2 linked regions of the Homo sapiens genome follow. The protein of the gene in region 2 interacts with the protein of the main gene of each other region in a pairwise test. Each region holds a gene or a part of one and is shown on either strand. Other genes may lie near its edges. The genes, in order: CARD10 and FAM47B.

Region 1 (3,912 bases), on a different chromosome or scaffold from region 2:
ACATCTGTGTATGTCAGACATATGTCTGAAAACAGTATCACGAAGAAAGAGCCATCTTAAGCATGTGGCTCTGAACTTGGAATAACGGCACTAGCACCCAGCCCCACCCTCAGCCTACCGTGGGGCCCTGGGCAAGCCCCTTCAGCCTCTCCATGCCTCAGTTTCCCTTACTGTTCAACAGGCATAGTGGGAGCGCCTCCCTAACAGGGATGGGGAAAGGAGCCTGTGCACTGGAGTCCGAGGTGCCAGCATCCACCGCAGATCCACTCACCGAGGATCATGGAGCAGCGCTGGGCGGGTTCCTGGCCCGTGAGCAGCGTGAAGTGTTCGGGGTAGTAGAACTCCAGGGCTTCCAGGAAGGCCTCATAGCCCCTCTTGCCACGGCAGCGCAAGATGTCCATCAGGCGCCCTACAGAGTAGTGGGGGGATGTACCCAGGGTCTAGGGGAAGGCCTCCCCAGGTGCCTGGTTGCTTCTGCCCCCACCATGCTCCAGGCCCACGTTCCCCAGATTTTTGAGCCAGTGACACACACAGGGGCCTGTCCCAACACATCAGGGAAGAGAAGAGAGCCATTCTGCCACAGCCAGGGGAGCACATTCCCTCATGACTCCTGGGCTCCCAGAGCTCCCCAACACCCCCCACAGACACAGATGCCGGCCCGCAAATGCAGCCTGCCTTTTCAATGGCACAGAGAAGCCCCCTCTATCCCCAGAAGCAAAGAAAATACTTCTCCCATTGGCCATGCCTGAAATTCCACCATTAAAGACCATTCCATCATGCCTTTTTGAGTTCTGGTTCAAAGGCACACCCTGTGGGAGTGGGGACCCACGTAAAGCTGAGACGGATCTTGACACTTGAAAAAGGACTCCCCCAGGAGTGTATGGTGCACAGAGGAGGGGACAGACAGAACTCGGAGATCAAAGAGCGCAGGAAAGGTGCCAAGTCCACCGGCTGTGACCGGGAGGTCCCAGGCCCAGCCGGCCCTGGCAGCCACATCCAACCTTCTGCTCTAATGTGGACCCAGGAAGTGGGAGAGAACCCCAAGAGACAAAACTCTGACCCCGGTGTGGGCAACGCGGACCGCCAAGGCGCAGTGGTGGGTGGGGAGGAGGCAGGCTGGTGGGCATACCCAGCCGGCCCACTCTACTGATGCGGAGACCGAGCCCCAGGGCAGCAGAGCCCTAGCTTCGCGCTACACGGCTGTGGGCGCTGCGCCCCAGGGCACGGCCGGCCCAGGTCGTGGCCCACTCGGGACCCGCGGCTCACCGGTGCGGTTGACGCGGCACGGGAAGCGGTAGGTGCTCAGCACCTCCTCCTCGTCCTGCTCGTCGATGACCCGGCACTGGCGCAGATACGGCGTGAGCTTGGCCGGGTTCAGGGCGCGAGCCAGCCGATGCCGGACGCCCTCGATTCGCTCCCACAGCGCGTCCTCCTCCGCCTCAGACCCCGAGCCGGCCCCGGCCTCCTCCTCGGCCTCCCCCGCCTCCGCCCGGCCCGGCATGGCCGTGTCCTCAGGGTCTGCGGGCAAGAGGCGCACGGGGGTCGACCAGGGCTCCCTAGGGCTAGATGTGCGGCCAAGCACCCCCGGGGCGTCGTCCGCAGACCCGCCGTCGGGGGCGCGCCCCGAGCTCCCCGCGACTCACCCCGCACGCTACAGTCGCCTCGGGCTCCCGGGTCCGCACTCGGGCGGCGGCTCCGCCGGCGCAGGGGGGCGGTGCCCGTGGCGCCCCCGGCTCCGCCCCCGTCCCCGCAGCCTCCTGGGCTGCCCGGGCCTCCCCACATTGCCGCCCGCCCCGGGTCGTGCGTCCGGCCCCCGGCCACCCCGCGCGTCCGTCTGCACGCCCTCCCTCCCGGCCGTCCGGCTGCGCCTCCCCCTGCTTCCTGTTTCCCGCCGGCTCTCCAGCCCGGCTCGGCGGGGTCCTGGCCGCCCGCCCACACCTGCCCGGCCTCTGGGCGGGGCGGGGGCGGGCAGGCGCGCTCACACCCCCCGCGCGCCGCGACACACCTTCCCCGGGCCACGCGCATCGCCTCCCCACGCCCACAGCGCGCCCGCCCGTGCGGGGCTAGCCGCTCACGCCCGGCGCAGCCCGCGGGCACTCAAGCTGGGCTTGCCCTTCTCGGGTCCCCACATGCACTGCGGGCGCGGGAGCTTCCCTGGAGCGCAGGACAGCCCCGCGGGGGACAGCAATGGGCAGAGGTCATGGGGGCTTTCTGCAAGATGGGGGTCTGAACCTGCAGGGCAGCACTGCCAACTCCCCTCTTACGCAAACTCCCGTGGCACTTGAGGACCAGGGACCCCACAATTCTCAAAGGGTATTCCTCCAGGTGTTGGTCCCAGAGATGCTGGGGGCGGGCTGTGACTAGCCATCCATACTCCCGCTCCTGCCTGGGAGGCCGGTGGTGTCTTACCATGATACTGGCCGAGTCTACACGGTATCTGCTGGTGCATGCGATACAGTCTCGCTATGCATTAGAAGCTGCCAGGTACCTGCTGCCAGGGAGGAACAGAGGAGGCACAACCGGTACAGGAAAGAGGTGTGAGCTCCCTAATCGCCTTCCACAACTTCTGAATTAGATGCCGTGGACATATGTATTACTTATCCAAAGAATTAAGGTTTCAATCAATAAAGGCTCTGAAAAGCCCTGCTTAAATTAAGGCCGGGGGCGGTGGCTCATGCCTGGAATCCCGACACTTTGGGAGACCGAGGCGAGTGGATCACCTGAGGTCAGGAGTTCGAGACCAGCCTGACCAATATGGCGAAACCCCATCTCTACTAAAAATATAAAAATTAGCTAGACGTGGTAGTGCGCGTCTGTAATCCCAGCTACTCGGGAGGCTGAGGCACGAGAATCGCTTGAACCCAGGAGGCGGAGGTTGCAGTGATATCGTGCCACTGCACTCCAGCAGCCCGGGCAACAGAATGAGACTCCCCCTCAAAAAAAAAAAAAAAAAAAAAAAAAGCCCCAGCAGTAAAGAAACAGATTTAACTTTATATATCCTGGTGTCCTTTTCCAAACTTAATTAACCACAGCCTTTTTTTGGTTTGCATTTGTTGTACATTTGTTTTTGTTTTGGGTGTCACCTGTTTACATGCAGAAGAAATGCTTTGGGAGAACTGAATTCTAGTGCAAATTCCTCAATTAACAAAGGAGGAAGCAGAGCTCAGAGAGGGCAAGGAACTTGCCCAAATTCACACAGCGAGGCCACAATGGGAATAGGCCGGAGCCCAGCCCCTGGCCTCTGTCCTCTCCAAGCCCCGAGTCCAGGCACACACCAGACCTCCCTTTCAATACGTCCTTCCCCTCTCTGTGGCCTTGGTTGCCCTCCCACGCAGAGCGGCAGCTCCTCCCACCAGCAGCCCTACTCCTCGTGAATATTTTTAACTTGGCCAGCAGAGCGGGATGGACGCCTTGGAAAATGAGGCTATGGTTAATTATTTTTTCATCGAGAAGCTAAGCAGGGCCTAAAGATAAGGCACAGAAGCCAAGAGGTCTCTGCAGATAAGTGGACAGAGAAGTGAGGGCACACTGGGTCTGAACAGGCAGGTAGCTGGGTACACCGAGTGCCCCTGGTGCCCAGCATTCCAGGGGAAGCGACAGAGTTCCTTTGGGTACCACACTCCCACATTCACATGTACAATTATACAGGCATGCACACGCACCATCACATACACATGCACACATACACACCCACCCACTGTGGGCATCAAGCCAGGCAGGAGGCAGACAGGGGCGTACCCACTTCCCCACAAACATCTGAGCCTCCTCATCTTTCCCCTGTCCCCGGGCGTCCATAGCACCGAGTGTGCAAGCGTGTGATTAGGTACCATGTTCATTATTGTCCTCTTGTGAGTTCTGCTACATTCATCTTCTCTCTATAGCTATGCCAGGAAGGCGGGCAGGGACTACAGC
Region 2 (3,912 bases):
ATGTAGGTCAGGCTGGTCTCAAGCTCCTCACCTTGAGATCCGCCTTCCTCGGCCTCCAAAAGTGCTGGGATTACAGGCGTGAGCCACTGCACCTGGCCTCAAACTGTCTTTATTCACAGATGACATTATCATAAATATAGAAAATTCAGTGAAATCTACAAAATGCTCCTGAACATAATAAGTGAGTTTACCAAGGTTGTATGATACAAGATGGATATACAAAACTCAATATTTATATATGCTAACAACAAAAAATTGGAAATTGCAATTAAAAAACAATACTACAGGCCGGGCGCGGTGGCTCATGCCTGTAATCCCAGCACTTTGGGAGGCCGAGGTGGGTGGATCACGAGGTCAGGAGATCGAGACCATCTTGGCTAACACGGTGAAACCCCGTCTCTACTAAAAATACAAAAAGTCAGCAGGGCGCGGTGGCGGGTGCCTGTAATCCCAGCTACTGGGGAGGCTGAGGCAGGAGAATGGCATGAACCCGGGAGGCGGAGCTTGCAGTGGGCCAAGATAGCGCCACTGCAGTCTGGCCTGGGCGAAAGAGCGAGACTCCGTCTCTTAAAAAAAAACAAAAAAAAACAAAACAAAACAAAAAAAAACTACATATAATAGTATGAAAAACAATATTTAGGGAAAATCTGGAGAGAAAAAGATTTGAAAGACACATACACTAAAAAATAAAAAATATTCCCGAGAAAATGAAAAATCACATAAACAAATGGAAAGATGACCTTCCTCAGTGGTCAGAACATTTCATATTGGTAATATGCCAATTATCCTCAAATTGATCTATAGATTCAACAGAATCCTAATCAAAATCCAAACAGGACTTTTTCTAAGACATAGACAAGCAGATTTTAAAATTTCTATAGAAATTCAAAGGACCTAGAAGAACCAACTTTGTAAAAGAACATTGTTAAAGAATTAGTACAGCCTAATTTCTAGATTTATTATAAAGCTAGAGTAACCAAGATAGTGTGAAATTTGTGTGAGAGAAAAATCAATGGAAGAGAAAACAGTGCCCAGAAATTGACCTTCAAATAGACAACTGATACTCTACCAATTTCCGAATGTAATTCAGTGGAGAAAAGATTGTCTTTATAAAAATAGTTCTGAAATTATCAGATATGCGTAAGCAATAGGTACATTTTTAAAATAAAAACTTTGATCTATATCTTGTGCTGTTTACAAAAATTATAGCATTTAAATGAAAAAAATCTTTGTGACCTTTGGATAGGCAAAGTTTTTCATAGATACATCAAAAGAAGCACAATCCGTAAAAGAACAAATTGATAAATTGGACTTCATCAAATTAAAAAACTTCTCTTTGACACAGACAATGAAAGAGCAAAGCCAAGGATGAAGTGAAAAATTTGCAAATCATGCATCTGATAACCTATTTACATCTAGAACACAGCAAGGATTCTCAAAACTAAATATGATATCCAGCAACACAATTTAAAAATGGGGGGAAAATCCACAGAAACTTCAACCAAGGGGAGATAAGGATGGCAAATAAGCAAATATAGAGATGTTCAATATCAGTAGTCATTAGGAAACGCAAATGAAACCCAGAATGAGATTCTACTACACACCTGTTAGAATCCGGGCTGCGCAGGTGGCGTCAGCGCTGCCCCACCTCCAGGAAGGAACCTGGGCTGCGTGTGGCTGGCGGTCTCCTAGCGACTAGAGCGGCAGGGATCTGGAACCTCAGAAGCTGGAGAGGTGGCACAACAGAGAGGGCCACCATGGGGGACCGGAGGCCACAGGACCGGCCAAGGTCCCAAGGCATGGACTCCAAGCCCTGGTACTGTGACAAACCGCCTTCCAAGTACTTCGCGAAGCGCAAGCACAGGCGCCTGAGGTTCCCGCCTGTGGACACCCAGAACTGGGTATTTGTGACGGAGGGCATGGACGACTTCCGCTACGCCTGTCAGTCTCCTGAAGATACGCTTGTTTGTCGCCGTGACGAGTTTTTACTCCCCAAAATATCTCTCAGAGGTCCCCAAGCTGACCGCAAAAGCAGGAAGAAAAAGCTGCTCAAGAAAGCGGCCCTATTTTCCGAGCTCTCGCCAGTACAGCCAGCACGGAAGGCGTTCGTAGAGGAAGTGGAAGCCCAGCTGATGACCAAGCATCCCTTGGCCATGTACCCCAATCTGGGAAAAGATATGCCTCCAGATCTCCTACTACAGGTGCTGAAACAGCTGGATCCCGAGAGGAAGCTGGAGGACGCTTGGGCTCGTTGTGAGGCCCGGGAGAAGACAACCGAGGTACCCACCGAGTCTGGTAAATATCCCTGTGGGGAATCCTGCCCGCGGCCTCCCGAGACTCCGGTGTCCCGTCTCCGTCCTCAGCTTCCCAAGACTCCGGTGTCCAGTCGCCGCCCAGAGCCTCCCAAGACTCGGGTGTCCAGTCTCCGCCCAGAGCCTCCCAAGACTCGGGTGTCCAGTCTCCACCCGGAACCTCCAGAGACTCGCGCATCTCATCTCCGCGTGGATCCTCCCGAGACTGGAGTGTCCCATCTCTGCCCAGAGCCTCCCAAGACTCTGGTGTCCAGTGTCCACCCAGAGCCTCCTGATACTGGAGCGTCCCATCTCTGCCCGGAGCCTCCCGAGACTCGCGTATCTCATCTCCACCCGGAGCCTCCTGAGACTGGAGTGTCCCATCTCCGCCCAGAGCCTTCCAAGACTCAGGTGTCCAGTCTCTGCCCGGAGCCTCCCGAGGCTGGAGTGTCCCATCTCTGCCTGGAACCTCCCAACACTCATCGGGTGTCCAGTTTCCTACTACAGGTGCTGAAACTGGATTCTGAGAAGAAGCTGGAAGACGCACGGGCTCGTTGTGAGGGCCAGGAGATGACAACCGAGGAACTCACCAAGCCTGGTAAATACCATTTTTGGGAATCCTGTCCGCGGCCTTTTGAGAGTCGGATGCCCCATCTCCGCCTGGTGCTTCCCATAACTCGTCGAATGGCCAGTCTCTGCCTGAAGCCTCCCAAGACTCGTCGGGTGTCCAGTCTCTGCCCGGAGCCTACCAAGACCGGAGCGTCCCATCTAAAAGAACTGTTTCAGGAAGATACACCAAGCACAATGGAGTGTGTTTCTGACTCTCTTCAACGTAGACACACATCGAGAAAACTCCGTGACTTCAAGTGGGCTGGAGACCTAGGAGTTAATGAAGAATCCATCAGCAGTCTGTTTGACTTTACCCCTGAGTGCAGAACAACCGATCAAGACCAAAAGATTAAGAAGGCAAACGAGTGTGCTTCAAGGCTGATGTACGGCATGGAGCTAGACGACATGGATGAGGTCGAATTCTTACGGATAAAATACTGGGACAGGAGACGCCGGGCGGCACCGCATTCTTATAGTGCACAGCGTGGGAGGATAAGGTATGGACCATGGTACTTCGAGCCTAAGTTGGGGAAAAAGCTAAGAAGTGATGAACCTTTGATTGACCCCAAGCCCGTACTTGAAAAGCCTGATGAACCCGACATTCTTGACGGTCTTTATGGACCAATTGCCTTTAAGGATTTCATTCTAAGCAAGGGCTACAGAATGCCTGGCGTCATTGAAAAGCTGTTTGCCAAGAAGGGATGGACTTACGACTCTGTTAAGACTCCTATTCAACGTGCAGTGCAAGTTTACAAGTACAAAGAAGACGTCACAGATGCATCAAAAGAAGATTAGATGGTTTTCAATTTACTGCTTAATTGGGTATTTCTTGCTCTCATTCTAAACATCAATCAGAATTTATGATGACTGGCCCCGTGAATGTACAACTTTGGCAACATCTGTAAATTCAATACCCAATGCTTATAAATATGTCTTAATGACCTGCTTTGGCCTCATTATTTCATATATTTTATCAATTATGTGATTTATATTCACATATACTTTTTTCACA

The links.
Region 1: the proteins of FAM47B (region 2) and CARD10 interact in binary tests that used the Homo sapiens proteins (3 or more experiments, as listed by UniProt).

The regions. Positions count from the first base shown.
Region 1 is NC_000022.11:37,517,700-37,521,611, forward strand, and holds the start of CARD10 (caspase recruitment domain-containing protein 10), read right to left. Parts: upstream 1,717-3,912; 5' UTR 1,502-1,716; coding exon 1,267-1,501; intron 410-1,266; coding exon 272-409; intron 1-271. UniProt on the Homo sapiens protein: Scaffold protein that plays an important role in mediating the activation of NF-kappa-B via BCL10 or EGFR.
Region 2 is NC_000023.11:34,941,075-34,944,986, forward strand, and holds FAM47B (protein FAM47B), read left to right. Parts: upstream 1-1,721; 5' UTR 1,722-1,757; coding exon 1,758-3,695; 3' UTR 3,696-3,841; downstream 3,842-3,912.